2 separate regions of the Homo sapiens genome follow, and region 1 is linked to region 2. Evidence: fine-mapped expression QTL. A gene starts in region 2. The other region holds a variant in brackets. All regions are shown on one strand. Distances are from middle to middle.

The links. PIP is the estimated chance that this variant, and not a neighbour inherited with it, causes the effect. A credible set is the group of variants that fine-mapping cannot tell apart.
Region 1: its variant is the best candidate, but not a certain one, in a credible set for the expression of ACTN2 in lung (TOPMed, PIP 0.72).

The regions. Positions count from the first base shown.
Region 1 is chr1:236,714,442-236,722,441 of GRCh38, reverse strand. ACTN2 (actinin alpha 2) reads right to left here. Exons shown (of 21, transcript NM_001103.4): 2 at 4,470-4,584; 3 at 3,429-3,548; 4 at 2,251-2,337. Among named protein-coding and RNA genes, the nearest start is that of ACTN2, 32 kb to the right of the region's middle. The variant G/A (reference allele first, on the strand shown) is at 4,339.
Region 2 is chr1:236,680,953-236,689,694 of GRCh38, reverse strand. It overlaps ACTN2 (actinin alpha 2), which reads right to left and starts at 3,196. Exons shown (of 21, transcript NM_001103.4): 1 at 2,896-3,196. The coding sequence starts at 3,021. RefSeq lists an enhancer at 1-1,612 and a silencer at 3,251-3,340.

The sequences.
Region 1 (8,000 bases), 33 kb before region 2:
GCTGGTCTCGAACTGCTGACCTCATGATCCACTCACCTTGGCCTCCCAAAGTGCTGGGGTTACAGGCGTGAGCCACCGCGCCCGGCCTAATCTCTCATTTTCTTTCTTGGAAGAGGCCCATCATTTTGCTGAAGGAAACTCACTCCTCAAAGAATTGTTTCTTTGATTCTAATAACAATGAATTTTTCAACATACCACACATCATTAAAACAAATAAAGATGATTTTTCTGTAGACTTACAGAAGTTAAATGAGGTTGTTAAACAATTACTCCATGAAACTAAAACAAATAAAAATATAAATTAGCAAACTGACAGTATCTACTGTGTTGGACACTGCAGAACCATCTGCTTGAAGAGATCTAGTAGGTACTTTCCTAATAAAATTATAATTTTTTAATGTTTAATTTCTTAGTCTTGTGAAGAGCAGATTAATATAGCCTTTTATCGCAAAATTTTACAAAATATTGTGATTTAGCTATCTTGCTTTGGGCATGTTAATAACAATTTTGGGGAAAACTCTAATGGATAATACCATTCATACCTACACTTGAAATATAATTAAGTTTGAATTCATATTATCACTAATTTAAAATTTGTAACCAATCAGAAACAACTTGAGGTCAACTTCACCTCTGTAATATTTGTGGAAAAAGGATTTGCTAGACCAGCAACAGTGTGACCAAGATTTCTAAAAGTAGTATTTATTTAAAGTGGGTTCAACAGTTTAAATATTTAAATTTAGAAGTATATAAAAACTGATAAAATTATTACAACTTACAATTTTTAAATAAAGCAAGAATTTTAGGAAGCCTCTTGTTTCTTTCATTAGCATAAAGGAAGGTACTGTAATAGAACTATATTGTACAAAAGTTTTCAAAGTCAGACTATGTATTAATTCAAGCTGGCTGTCATTCCTGAGCTTGAATTGTTTTAATGCCATTAGATTTTAGTTTGACTTTTAGATGACATAAGTCGGTCTCCGGTGCCAGAAGGGAATAATTGAAGTGAGTTTGAAGGTCCATAAGGGCAAGTACTGCAGGCTTCATGTCAGCTGGTACAAGTAGGCAAAGTGTTGTTTCTTAATGTTTGTTGGTTGATGAGTACCTAAAATCACTTAAAAAGACCAGAGTCTCATGCCTGTAATCCCAGCACTTTGGGAGGCTGAGGCGGGCGGATCACGAGCTCAGGAGATCGAGACCATCCTGGCTAACACAGTGAAACCCCGTCTCTACTAAAAATATGAAAAATTAGCCAGCATGGTGGTGGGCGCCTGTAGTCCCAGCTACTCGTGAGGCTGAGGCAGGAGAATGGCGTGGACCCAGGAGGCAGAGCTTGCAGTGAGCCAAGATCGCGCCACTGAACTCCAGCCTGGGTGCCAGAGTGAGACTCCGTCTCAAAAAAAAAAAAAAAAAAAAAAACAAAAAACAAAAACCAGAGTCAGAGGCTACTGTGGCCTGGGCAGAATTATAAATAACGTCTCCACCCCTTACCACTCAGGTACCTGGTTACCTACTGGATTACAGAGTCAGAAGGGGCCAAATAGTTGGACAATGCAGCAGCCCTGAAACACATTCTGCAGTTATACACTTTGTGATTTGAGGGCCAAACAGGCAAAGTTCCAATTTTAAGAATGCCAATTTGACACTTTTCAACAGTGCTGAATTCATCAAAATATTTGGGAGTGTAGTTGGTGTAAAAGACTAAAGATTTTTATCTTCAGTGGCAGTGTCAAGGATTAAGATTCTATGATAATGATGAAACAGTAGTTAGGCCAAAAGATACAGTGACAATAGAGGTCTTGTTTAAAAAGAAAAAGAAGAAAAAAGAAAAAGAGAGGGAGAGAGATAGGGAGGAAGAAAGTTAAGGAAATAACAAACATGGGTTGCAACAGATTCTTTTTTTATACCAGGGGGAAAGAAAGTGTTTCAGTTGTAAGACTAAAGAACTCTGCCATAGCTGTAAATTTACTAGTATAATAAGCAATCAAGAAGCTCAATAAATGCTCATTTTAAAAAGCGACTTCTGTTCTGAACATGTGCTCATCTTTTGCAAACCGATTCCACCCCCATGAATGAAACAGTGCTGCCGAGGTCTTTTCCTATACACATACAAAATTTATAAGAACCCACTTACATGTCTCTCATTCAATCATGTAAGTGACTGTTGGACTTTAAAACATCTTGCTCAAATTTTAATTCACAAGCTCAATTTACAGATTATACAATTAGACTTTTAACCATGTCTTTTACCTTCAACCGAAATATCCTGAATAGCAAAGCGAAGGATGATGGTCCAGATCATACCCAGGGTCATTTTCACGTTGCCATCAACAATTTCTGCAGGTAAGAAAACAACAAATTAATGTAAAGATAACATAGTCTGTACGTAACTTTTTTCCTATATATAAATGTTGACTTCAGAGCTATTGGAAAATGTGCATATGGATGGAAAGACCAGTTTATGTTTTTATAAGCACCGCAGTATGTCTGGTTATAAATACAGTATTCATAACCAAATGTCTCTAGTTTAAATAAATTCTAAGTTAATAATAAGCACAAATCTTGCATATGTATTATCAGTGAAAACCACCCGGGAGTTTCCAAAGTTTTAAGATGTAATAGCTAAGGTTTTTTTTTTTTTTTGAGATGGAGTCTCACTCTGTCGCCCAGGCCGCAGTGCAGTGACACAACCGTGGCTCACTGCAACCTCCGCCTCCTGGGATCAAGCAATTCTCCTGCCTCAACCTCCTGAGTAGCTGGGACTACAAGGACTACAGGCATGCGCCACCACACCCAGCTAATTTTTTGTAAATTTAGTAGAGATGGGGTTTCACCACGTTGGCCAGGCTGGTCTTGAACTCCTCACCTCAGGTGATCTACCCGCCTCAGCCTCTCAAAGTGCTGGGATGAGCATGAGCCACTGTGCCCAGCCATGAGCTAAAGTTTTAAATAATCAAATAAAGAGAACACAGTCTCATCTTTACCCTGACCCTTCTTACGGCATTCCGCAGCTGACAAGTAGCAGGACTCAGTTGTGCATACAGAGATATGGGTGGAAATCTCAGCTCCCGCTGACCTCACCAAATTCCCAGTCTCCCATAGAGAACAAAGAGGCCACTTCCTTCCTATTAGTTAGTTCTTATTAAGAGTCATTGGGATGTGTAAGTTCTTTCTCAGTCCTTTAAGTCTTCTGAAGATGACAGCATTATATTTAATTCTATGCTTTACAAAGAACCTAGAGCTTGGTCTCCCACTCATGGTACCATTTGTTCTTATCTTTGTGCACCGAGCGCCCTAAGAGAGAGCCTGATACAAGGCAGGTACAGTAAATGGTGAAAGGGAGGGAAGAAGGGGAGAATTCAAGTCGCAGCCCACACCTACGCTATTAGGTCAGTGTGGCAGACAGGACCACCCACCACACCTCTCACCTTCAGCGCCAATGGACACCAGTTTCACCCCTTTGCTGGCTATGTAATCCAAAGCTTTGTTGACATTAGCAATTTTGTGGAACCGCATTTTTCCCCGGTCAGGTTTGGGCAGCCTTTCCCCTGTTGGATGAAAAGAGAATCATGCAGACATAGAGACAGTGACCTCTTGATGCGGAATCAAGATGCCAAAACTAAGCATCCATCTTTTCCTTAAAAAGAGAAGGTTACATGACTATTTCTGATGTGTGCCTGGTCTCTCTAAATCACAGCAATGAGGGAACACTAACCCAGAAACTTTCAGAATCAAATGGACCAGCAGGGAGCCATACTATGAAGGACACATGCTTTTCAGATCTGCAGGGAGAGTCTGGTTTGGCCCATGATCCAACTTACAAATGAGTAAAAAGAGAAGCTGGTTAGAGTCCCTGGAGTATTCAGAGTTGCTGGCTAACGGTTAGAGGAAGTCAGGATGGCCAGTTAAAATCACAGAGGTGGCTGCCAGGGCTCGTTCGACACCTGATTATGAAGACAGATGGATCAGGGCAGATCTGCCATAATCCTTCCCAGTCACACTTCTCCAAAGGTGATCCATTCTCTAGTCCAAAGTCTAAATCAGCCAACTGAAATTCAGGACAAATCATAGCCCCACTGGGATTTTAGCTTATATGTTCAGAGTTCTGCCAACATGTACAGTAGATTTTTGGATACAAGATGATTTCTGGAATACACTCTAGCTGGACGAAGAGTAGAAAGGGCAGCATGGAGGGAGTCGTGTGAAGTCATTTTTTCTTCTCTTATTTTGTTTCAAGCTTGGTGGTATAAACATTATTTTAATAAGTGATTTTTAAAGAGAATTCACTCCTTTTTTTAGAACGGAAAAATAACTCCAGGCAGATTGTTCTTTGGAAAG[G/A]TTTTCTTTGGCAATAATACCATGTTCTTGCCCAGCCAAGTTCAAAGCGAACTTCTGATGTAGTCATCTTTAAATAGATGCTCACCTACTGATAACACATGAAAGCATAGGATGGGATATATAACACCAACCTGAGATGACTTCCAAAAGCAGCATGAGCTTAAGGCCATTCCTGAAGTCTTCCTCGATGTTCTCAATCTGGGTGCCGGCTTTCCTTAGGTGGGAGTTACACCAGGCAGTGAAGGTCTGCAAAGAAAACCAAACACGGTTTAGCACAGGTCCATCGGATTTCAGATCCCTTCCTCACAGACGACACTTGACACCTTACACGTTCTTGGGAATCTACAAGGCTGGGGCTGCTTGGGCTTCTAGAGGATGCAGAATTTGATGGAAAGAAGAACTGGAAACCCAAAAGAACGATTTTAGTAAATTTTCCACTTTAGAGATAAAGACTCTCTTATTGGATATTCCAACCTGAAGAATTTTTGCCTTCCATTTAAAAAGACACCACATTTATACCTGTATCTTCACCTTTTGAAACCCTTTTACTTTGTAGAAAAGATAGATTAAATTAAGATGTGCTTATTTCTTGCTCACAAATATGCAAAATATGCTTGCTTGCAGCAGAATAGATGAATAAATAACAGTGTTTTGTTTTGTTTTGGAGACAGGGTCATCCAGCTCTGTCACCCAGGCTGGAGAACAGTGGTGTGATCATGGCTCACTGCAGCCTCAACCTCCCAGGCTCAACTGATCCTCCTGCCTCAGCCCCCTAAGTAGCTGGGACTATAGGCATGCACGACCACACCTAGCTAATTTTTTTTTAGAGATGGGGTCTTGCTATGTTGCCCAGGCTGGTCTCAAACTCCTAGACTCAAGCAATCCTCTTGCCTCAGCCTCCCAAAGTGCTGGGATTACAGGCATGAGCCACCATGCCCAGTCTAAATAATGTTTGAAGAATGTTCAAAGGCCAGGTGTGATGACTCACACCTGTAATCCCAGCACTTTGGGAGGCTGAGGCAGGGCAGATCACTTGAGGTCAGGAGTTCGAGACCAGCCTGACCAACATGGTAAAACCCCGTCTCTACTAAAAATACAAAAATTAGCTGGGTGTGGTAACGTGTGCCTGTAGTCCCAGCTACTCAAGAGGCTCAGGCAGGGAAGTAGCTTGAAACCAGGAGGCGGAGGTTGCAGCAAGCCAAGATCATACTACTGCACTCCAGTCTGGGTGACAGAGTGAGACTCTGTCTCAAAAAAAAAAAAAAAAATGTTCAAAATGTGTTGCTTTAGAGGAGAGGGTGGGTGATATTGTGTAGCAGAAAGAAGAGAGAAGGGACCCATAACCAGTGATAACCTAGAACTAGTTTATCTCGGGTGAACAACAGTTTTAAGCTACTAATTAAATCAATTAAACAAATTTGCAGTATAGTCTATCATTGAAAAAATAATAACAATAACCTCCTACAAGCATATTCCAAGCACTGGACTACATCCTGGATCTCAAAGGTGACTATATTCAACCCTGCCTTTGGAAGGGATCACAGTCCAGTCATATTAACAAATTACTAGGGCAAATCTTCGGCTGAAAATGGACCATATATTAAGTGACATCTAAAGTTATTCTGTTTATTTTTCCAGCTTCTTTTAACTTGGCTTCCACTTGTGCCCTATTTCCTGCCAAAACCAGATTAGAAATGTTTCTGGCAGCTGCTGGCTAAGCATGCAAAATGTCCCCTCATCCCACAACAGCTGCTGGGCTTGAGAACAAAGTGCCTGGCACATCAAACTGGGGAGTAGGGGACACACAAACAGGGTTTGTGTTCAAGATGAAAACTTCAACCTATCAAAAACAGGCTGCTTCTAAGTCAGACTACAGAAAGACAAAGTGTCCATAAAAATGATTTTCCTGGGTGATAAAGAGGATTTTCAAATCTGACTAATAGTTTCTCCTTTCAAGAAGGAGGTGACAGCATTTAATTCAAGGACCAAAAAAAAAAAAAAAAAGAAGAAGAAGGGATTTTTTGGATTTACAGTAATAAATTTTACCCTGAGAGCCTAAACTAACAATTATGTCTAAGCTTTAGTCAGGTCTAAACAGAAAAGATACTCTAAGCCATCCACTTTATTTATTTTTATTTTTTATTTTTATTTTTTGAGACGGAGTCTTGCTTCCAGGCTGGAGTGCAGTGGCATGATCTCAGCTCACCGCAATCTCCGCCTCCCGAGTTCAAGTGATTCTCCCGCCTCAACCACCCTAGTAGCTAGGAATACAGGTGCCTGCCACCACACCTAGCTGATTTTTGTATTTTTAGTAGAGACGGGGTTTTGCCATGTTGGCCAGACTGGTCTTAAACTCCTGACTTCAGGTGATCCATCTGCCTCGGCCTCTCAAAGTGCTGGGATTACAGGCATGAGCCACCACACTCGGTCTTAAGCCATATACTTTAGATCTATACCCAATCAGTGTGGTAGCTCCTAGCCAGAAGTAGCCACTTAAACTTAGACTAATTAAAATAAAATTTAAAAATTAGCTCCTCAGTTGCACAAGTCATGTTTTAAGTGATCAAAAGCCACATATGGCTAGTAGTATTGGATGGTGCAAATATACAACATTCCTATCATCACAGAAAATTCTACTGGACAACACTATAGATAATTAAGTTTTGTTTTTTGAAGGTAAGATTATGATAAGAATTCATTACTTATTTTTTAACATATTAATTTTATGTATTTATTTTTTGAATGAGTAATAGGTTTCTTTGGTATAAAACTTCAAGTGGTAACAGGGTGGGGGGAGGGGGGAGGGATAGGATTAGGAGAGATACCTAATGTTAAATGACGAGTTAATAGGTGCAGCACACCAACATGGCACATGTATACATATGTAACAAACCTACACGTTGTGCACATGTACCCTAAACCTTAAAGTAGAATAAAAAAAAAAAAAAGGAAAAAGAAATTCAAGTGGTACGAAAGGGTTCAAAGAAAAATCCATCCTCTCACCTTTGTTCCTTGGCTACCCAATGCCCTACCCCATAAGGAATGAAGCTATCAGTCTCTTGCATATCCCTTCAGTGGTATCTGTGTATACATAAACACACAGTGAGGAATGAAGCTATCAGTCTCTTGCATATCCCTTCAGTGGTATCTGTGTATACATAAACACACAGTGAGGAATGAAGCTATCAGTCTCTTGCATATCCCTTCAGTGGTATCTGTGTATACATAAACACACAGTGAGGAATGAAGCTATCAGTCTCTTGCATATCCCTTCAGTGGTATCTGTGTATACATAAACACACAGTGAGGAATGAAGCTATCAGTCTCTTGCATATCCCTTCAGTGGTATCTGTGTATACATAAACACACAGTGAGGAATGAAGCTATCAGTCTCTTGCATATCCCTTCAGTGGTATCTGTGTATACATAAACACACAGTGAGGAATGAAGCTATCAGTCTCTTGCATATCCCTTCAGTGGTATCTGTGTATACATAAACACACAGTGAGGAATGAAGCTATCAGTCTCTTGCATATCCCTTCAGTGGTATCTGTGTATACATAAACACACAGTGAGGAATGAAGCTATCAGTCTCTTGCATATCCCTTCAGTGGTATCTGTGTATACATAAACACACAGTGAGGAATGAAGCTATCAGTCTC
Region 2 (8,742 bases):
AGTGTGTCTCAGCATTTCAGTGTCTTAAAATATTGTATCTGGGGCTGAGCATCGTGGCTCATATCCTTAGTATCAGCACTTTAAGAAGCCAAGGTGGGAGAATGGCCAGGAGTTCAAGACCAGCCTGGGCAACACAGTGAGACCCTGTCTCTACAAAAAAAGTTTTTAAAATAAAAAAATTAGCCATGTGTGGTGGTGCATGCCTTGACGTCATGGAGGTCACTTGAGCCCAGGAGGTCAAGGCTACAGTGAGCTATTATCATGCCACTGTACTCCAGCCTGGGCAACAGAGAAAAATCCTGTCTCTAAACATTACATATTTTATATATATATATAAAATATACATATGTGTGTGTATATATATATATATATATATATATATATATATATATATCACATCTGTAATACTGCAGGCATTTTTCTTCTACCCTTGAGTTGTATGAATTAAAATACTTCTTTATAGAAAATATAAATATTCCTAACCCTATTAACACACTCTTCTGTGTAACACACTCTTCCTAACACACTCTTGAAAGAGAAGGTAGACACGTTGAAACGCCTATTCGCACTCATGCTAAACCCACTATCTTCTGCATTCCCTTCTCTTATAAAACTCATTACACTTTTATAAAGTCCTTCTACAGCAAGGCTTTCCTTCCACACCACAGAGCAAGGATTACCATAGCCCATGAGACTCTCTGAACTGTAGATATAATTAGGCATCACATCCATTATAACGCCACGGACGTCATCATGTGCTACCAGCATCTGTTGACAGATCTCATACCCAGCATATCACTGAAATGGCAAGTGTGGAGAAGGCAGCCCACAATAGAAACAATGGTATTTTACCCTTGTCCGGTTCCAGCAGTTTGTCTCATGGGACATAAATAGAGGCCACTGCTCTGGCCACACTGAGCTCACAGTTCAATATTATTTTACTGACTTGAGCAGGGTCTATACCAAAAGTAGAAATAGAGAATCTTCTAGATCTCTCCTAATGTAGTTTTTGCCCCCCAAGCATGTACAACATTCAAACTATCTTAAAAAAAATTCTCACCTTAAACTTTCTAACATTATTTTGGACTGGGATCAGGAAGTATGTTATTTTTAAATAATCAACTTTACTTCAAGTGCTATGCAATTATAATAATACAGTCAACATAGGAATCCCAAACCTAAAAGAATTCGAAGCCATATATCCAAAAATACTGCAAATAAGTTAAAAGATTAAATATGGCAGAAGGGATGTCAATGTGGCCTCTGGAAACTGTCATTACCTCTATCCTGCTACTGTACTGTACTTAAAAAAAAAAAAGGCAACAGAAAGCACTGTGATTAGACCATCACTTTCAAAAATGATGGGCAGACTACCTGTCCAATTCCTTAGCTATTTTACAATTCCTCATAAGAAAGCAATTTTTAAAACAAAGACCCGGGAGTTATCTTTTTTTTTAATCCATGAAAAGTGCAGTAATCAAAATTTGGGGAAATTCTTTTAAAAAAAAACACTCACTGCTAAAAATTAAAGTCACTTTTTAACTTCGTGCTGATGGATGATGCATCAGCTGGTCCAGATGACACATTAGTAATCCTCATGCCTCGTACTTCCTTCACAATCAGTCCTTTAAACAATAGTAGACGGCTTGAAGTTTTGTTTTTTTCTATTTATTACTCCCATTTTCTAAGAAAGGTAGGGATGGTAAAAGCCTTAAGAAACTCGGGGAGAGACTGAAATGTAGCTAAATTAGAGCTTTAAAATAATAATAGTAAATGGTATTTTAGGAGAGAGGGTAGACAAGAGACATCCTGATATAAAAATAGTGCTTGGTTATTTGATAATCATCTCTCCTTCCAGCTAACGCTGTTTGCTGCGAGAGGAGTTTGGGATGTGTGTTCTCCACCATCATACCCCTATTCACCAAATACTATCGCACAATCAGCTACAGTACCCATTATACAGAGATTCCCATACACACTATGGTCACCACAGGCTATCCACCTAAAGCAGGTCCTTAGAAGGGAAATCTATCTTGCCCCACGCCCAGAAAAATAGGCGGAAAAAAGTTCAGAGCGTTTGGCTTTTGCCATAACCCCGTTATCTTAAGGTTGGGTTGGCAGGTCTCTGTTGTCATGTCTGACCCAACCAGGCTCCCTGCCTAGTCAAGTAAGAGGCGGGATTAAGCCTCCTGGTGAGCATTCCCTATTTATTCCAGCCAAGAGGATCAAGAGGAAACCTTGAAAAAGTGGAATGTTCCACTGGGCCCCCAGAGAACGCCAATCAAAATGGGGAGGGAGCTTTTAGAAGCTGGCTGACTCCTTCGTCCCTGTGTGCTTACCTCAATGAATTATAAATAGAGTGTGAAATAATTGTCACTATCGGTAAATGTCTAGTGTTCATACAACATCCCTCTCCAAGGAACCCAAAAGATTGAATAAATGACTTTCCATGACTCTAGGGGCAGCCCGGTGGAAATTGCAATGAAGCTGATGTTCTTTTGCTTCTTTCAATGGGGAAGAGAGAGGCTGGGGTAAATGGACACAAGCGGGCCAGGAGAGTATAACTCGGGGGCCAAGGTCACAGACTCAAGGGGTCAGGAGCAGACCAGAGACCCCTTCAGATCTGGTCTAACGCGGGTTGGTGTGAGGAACAGAACCACATCTGTACCTCCGATGCTGCTAGCGCGCGCGCACACACACGACGCCCAGTGTCCTGCCTGTCCCCGGACGTGTCCTCTTTCCTAAGGGGCCCCCGGGGCTGCGAGGGCACAGGACAGCACAGCACCTCCACAAAGCGCCCTCTCGCCAGTCGCCAGGCCACGCGGCCACGCGCACGGGAGCCCCGCGGGGGACCCGGCCCCACCACGCGCGGGCGGCCCGCGGGCCCCTGCTGACCTTCCTCTGCTGCTTCTCCCAGGCTGGGTCCAGGAGCAGGTCGCGGTCCCACTCCTCCTCCTGGATCATGTACTCATCCTCGTCGTACACGTAGTTGTACTGCACGCCGGGCTCTATCTGGTTCATGGCGCTCGGTTGGCCGGGGCTGCGGCGGGGCGCGAGGGGCTCGGACGCACGGGCTGACTGGCAAACGGACCCACGGAGGCGGCGGGCGGCGGGCGGCGGGCGCGGGGTGACCTTCGCGCGGCTCCTCTCGGGGCGACACGCCTGGGCGCTGGGTCTCGGGCGAAGCACCAGCTCCGGCTGCGAGCAGCTGCCGCGCGGCTTAATAGCCGCGCCGCCCGTCACGTGGCCGCCCGGCCACGCCCCCGCCGCCACCGCCCCCGGCCCCGCCCGTCGGGCCCCAGCCGCCCCGCCCCGAGCACGTGCGGGCGGACAAGGGCGCCGGGCCCCTCCACTGTCTCCCCTGCAGCCGCCGCCCAGAGGCCGCCTGCACGCCTTCCGCCGAGGCCTCCGGGAACGTGAGGGGAGCGGCCGGCCCCGAGCAGAGCCACGCCTGCCACCCACGCTCTGAGAGCGGCTGGTTAGCGGCGCGGGGTCCGTCGGTGTCCCGGGTGGGTGATCGCGAGCCAGGGGAGGGACACCTAAGAGGCTGGGTCCCTGACCACCCCAACACAGCCAAGTTTTCCAAATATCATTTGGATATTCGCGTTTTCCATATATTCCCACATATTCATTGGAGACCCCTCTTCTCTCTCTCTCATCTCTCTCTCGTGCCTCTCTTTCCGCTCATCGGTCCCTCTCTCTTGTGTCTGTCTCTCGTCTGTCTCTCTCTCATCTCTGTCCCTCTTTCTCCAGTGTCTCTCTCTCATAGATCTCTCTCATATCTCTCTCTCATCTCTGTCTCTCCTGTGTCTCTCTCACATGTCTCTCTCTCCTCTCATCTCTCTCTCTCTCTCGTGTCTCACTGTCTCTCATCTGTCTCTCGTGTCTCTCTCCTCTCCTCTTCTCTCCTCTGTCTCTCTCTCCCGTGTCTCTCTCTCTCTCGTCTCTCTCTCTCTGTCGTGTCTCTCTTTCTCTCTCTCATCTGTCTCTCTCTCCTGTGTCTCTCATACCTCTCTCATCTCTGTCTCTCTCTTCTCTCTCTCTGTTTCTCTTCCTCCCTCTCACACACACACACACATACATACATACAGGCCCCTAAGGAGTAAAGTTTAAAAGCTACAGAACCCCCCTCTTCTTTCTCTCCTCCTCACCCTCACCTGGGGAAATCAAGGCACAGGATTTGGATCCATCCTATTAAAATGTTAGGAACCAAACCAAAGGCAGGAAGTGTCAGCTCTCACCTACCGGGCATAAATTTAAGAGAGCTGACAATGAAGGGCAAGCGGCCAGCTTCGTGTTATATTTCCATGTCGCCCTGTGGGTTGCACTTAACGCCTTTTCATCCCCCTAGTGCTGGCTAGCTGTTCCCTATCAGTTATGCTGCCGCAGGAAGCAAAATGAGGACCCTTGGGACAAGTAGGCTGAAATTTTTAAATCAAATATGTATTAAGCAACTACTGTAAACCAGAGGTTGCCTTAGGCACCAGACGAGCTGATGGGATGCCTGCCTGCAATTCAGTTTATATCTCAATTGAATAAACGTTGCCCACAGATGCTACAGAATTTTTTGTGATTCAGGGCTACTAATTTGTGGACATGTTTCAAGTTGAGTTTGTCTGGATTTATCATTGTTCCTTAGAATTTTTACATCACTCACCGTTACTGTTTGGGGCTTTATGCAGAAAGATAACAATTAGCAAACAGGTTGCATTAACTTTGTTTTGTTTTGTTTTGTTTTGAGATGGAGCTTCACTCTTGTTGCCCAGGCTGGAGTGCAAGAGCACGATCTCGGCTCACCGCAACGTCCACCTCTCCGGTTCAAGCGATTCTCCTGCCTCAGCCTCCGGAGTAGCTGGGATTACAGGCATGTGCCACCACACCCGGCTAATTTTGTATTTTTAGTAGAGACGGGGTTTTTCCATGTTGGTTAGGCTGGTCTCGAACTCCCAACCTCAGGTGATCCACCTGCCTCAGCCTTCAAAAGTGGGGATTACAGGTGTGAGCCACCACGCCCCGCCACATTAACATTTTCAAAAACATTCTCACTAGGATGTAAATTCCTCAAACGCAGGGATTTTGTCTCGTCCACAGTTGTAGACCCCAGCAACTACAGGCGTGTCCACCGCACAGTGGTGCTCATTTGTTGAGAGAAGTAGTATCCCTGGAAATAGTGACTGAGCTAATTTACTTGGATTTAAATTTAAAATTTAGAGTTTATATTTTGGATTAAAATCATACTCTTGAAACAAGTGGATCAATAAATTTTACCTATTAGAAACTGGGCCGGGCACAGTGGCTCAGGCCTGTAATCCCAACACTTTGGGAGGCCGAGGTGGGTAGATCACCTGAGGTTGGGAGTTCAAGACCAGCCTGGCCAACATGATGAAACCCCATCTCTACTAAAAAAAATAAAAATAAAAAAATTAGCTGGCTGTGGTGGCATGCACCTGTAATCCCAGCTACTCAGGAGGCTGAGGCAGGAGAATCGCTTGAACTCAGGAGGTGGAGGTTGCAGTGAGCAGAAATTGCGCCACTGTACTCCAGCCTGGGCGACAAGAGCAAAATTCCATCTCAAAAAAAAATAAAAAAAGAAAGAAAGAAAAGAAAAGAAATTGGATGTACAATTACAAAAAGTGCTACATCGTTCAACTTAGTTTTCAAAAATTAACGTGGGGACTTCATGAGATGGAAAAAACAGCGCCAGATTTACCATCCTGCCTGAAACAACTAAAGCCTGGGGAAAAAAACACATAAAACAATGGTTTTCAAGACATTAGTCATCAGGCAAAGAGGGACAATGAACCCTCAGAGGCAGAAAATAAATGATGTGAGTACTGCAATTGCCCCAGCTTACAGTCTGGAGAAAACTTTCAAGATGCAATGCAACAAAGAGGTACCCAGGCACAGCTTACTGGTCTCCATAAACTGAGAGTTCAGAGAGACCAAACATTAGAATTTGCAAGGCCAATTACAGCAGAAAATGGAGCTGCAAAGAGAGAGAATCCTGGAGATTTGCTGTTCCCTGGAATCTGATCAGTGAATACATGAGAGGAAACTGCCTGAGGCCAAGGAAAGAAGGTCCCGAAAGGAATAGAAGGAATGATTCTTAAATTCATAACGGGCCAGGAATAGTTCCTGTTTCCATCAGCCAGGGTGGAAAACCTTATAATCCACAAAGCATCAGAGTACTCCAACCTGGAGGGAAATTAGCTCCTGATGAAATATTGTACTTGTCCTGCCTGCAAAACCTGAAAAGCATGACCTGAAAATCGTAATTTCCAAGTAACTTAACCATGTCCCAGATCAAAGCTCAAACATATCTATAGGAATATGAAAACATTCAACACTCAAATTTTACCCAAAGGTAAAATTTGCAATTTCTGCCACCTGTGAAATATTACCAAATTTTTCACAGGTGTGCAAAGAAGCAGGCACATATGATCCATAATGAGAACAATCCATCAATCAAAACTGACCTAGAATTGACACAGATGATAGAATTAGTAGAAAGGAACATTAAAAGAGTGATTATTGCTATATTCCATATATTTAAGAAGCTAGAGGAAAGATTGAACCTGACAAGTAGAGACAGAGGAGATATGAAAAATTTAATATCTAGAGATGAAAACTACATCTGAAATTTTAAAATACACTAAACGCGTTTGCCTATAGATACTGCATTAGAAAAGATGAGTGAACTTGAAGGCATAGCAGTAGAAAAAAATCCAGTATGAAACACACAGAGAGAAAACAGGTTTAAGAAATGAGCACGGCCAGGCGCAGTGGCTCACGCCTGTAATCCCAGCACTTTGAGAGGCCAAGGTGGGCGGATCACCTGAAGGCAGGAGTTCAAGACCAGCCTGGCCAACAGGGTGAAACCCCGTCTCTACTAAAAATACAAAAATAGCCGGGCACGGTGGTGGGCACCTGTAATCCCAGCTACTCGGGAGGCTGAGGCAGGAGAATCGCTTGAACCGGGAGGTGGAGGTTGCAGTGAGCCGAGATCGCACCACTGCACTGCAATCTGGGCAACAAAGTGAGACTCCGTCTCAAAAAAAATAAAATAAAATAAGAAATGACCAGAGGATCTGTGAGCTGTGAGAAGCCTTCATGCAGCTTAGTATCCAAGTAACTGGAGTCTCTGAAGTGGGAGAACAGGAAAAAAAAAAAAAGTACTTTAAGAAGTAACAGACAAAGTCAAGAAGTTAGTAAGGGGACTTCCACTTGTGGCGAAGGTGGAGTATGGGGAACTGGGATAATTCTTCCTGAAACAACCACTGCCTTCCACCCGCAGGACTGGAAAAAACTGATCATTCACAGAGCACTGAGTAGAATACTTAGGAAGGTCTTGCCTCAGCAGTGCCGAATGATTAGTCCTAAATAGAGCACTGCTCTAAGCTGGTTAACCAAATCATAAAAACAAGACCCAAAAGATTAAAACCATTTCCAAGTAACTGCATCACAAAACAAAGCTCAAGAATATTTATAGGCATACAAAAATATCCAGCACCCAACAAGGTAAAACATCACAAAACCTGACATTCAATACAAGATTACCAGGCATGGCGGGGCGTGGTAGCTCACACCTGTAATCCCAGCATTTTGGGGGGCTGAGGCGGGTGGATCACCTGAGGTCAGGAGTTTGAGACCAGCCTGACCAACAAGGTGAAACCCCGTCTCTACAAAAATACAAAAATTAGCCGGGTGTGGTGGTGGGTGCCTGTAATCCCAGCTACTTGGGAGGACGAGGCAGGAGAATCACTTGAACCCAGGAGGCAGAGGCTACAGTGAGCTAAGATCACGCCCCTGCACTCCAGCCTGGGTGATACAGTGAGACTCTGTCTCAAAAAATAAAAAAATTAAAGTTAAAAGATTACCAGACATACCAAGAGACGGAAAACACACCCATAATAATGAGAATATAAATCAATTGAAGCTGACTTAGGACTAACAGATGTTAAAGTTAGCAGATAAGGACATTAAAACAGTTTCTATGACTGTATTCTGTATGTTCAAAAACTTAAATACAGATATGAAAGATACGTTTTAAAAGACTCAAATAAAACTTCCAGAGATGAAAACTAAAATGTCTGAGAAGTAGAATACACTGAATGGCATTAAGGGAAGATTAGACAGTGGAGAAGAGATTAGTGAACTTTGAAAGCATAGCAATAGAAACAACCCAAAATGAAACACAGAAAGAAAAAATAATCCAAAAGAATGAAAAGAGCTTCAGTGAGTTTGCTGAAAGAACAATTCACCATCTGTCCTGAATATGTCTGCACATTCTTGCTGGTCTGCCAGAAATGATAGGACCCTGACAGCTCTTTACCCCGCCCATTTCTCAGGGTTGTGTTTGCAATGTGCAGCCTTGACAAATGCAGTAAGATCTACTCCCAAGCAAAAATGTCTTGCTTTTGGTTGCTATAAAAGTTCCTGCGGCACAAGCTCAGTGTTCCTCTTCTATAACGAGACTCACTGTGTGTGCAGGCTTTCATTATGAGCCCTTTGCTGTCACCTCAATGGGACTTGGAGGTTATGGGGAACCAGCATGAAAATCAAGACAGGTCATTTTCAGGGCTGTAAAACAACTCTCAATAAATTTAAAAAATTCAATCATAAAGTGAGTGTTCTCAGATAACAATGGAATTAAGTTAGTAGTCAGAAAGATCTCTGAAAATTCCTTGGATACCTGAAATTCAATAACACATTTTTAGTTAACCCATGGATCAAAGAAAAAAA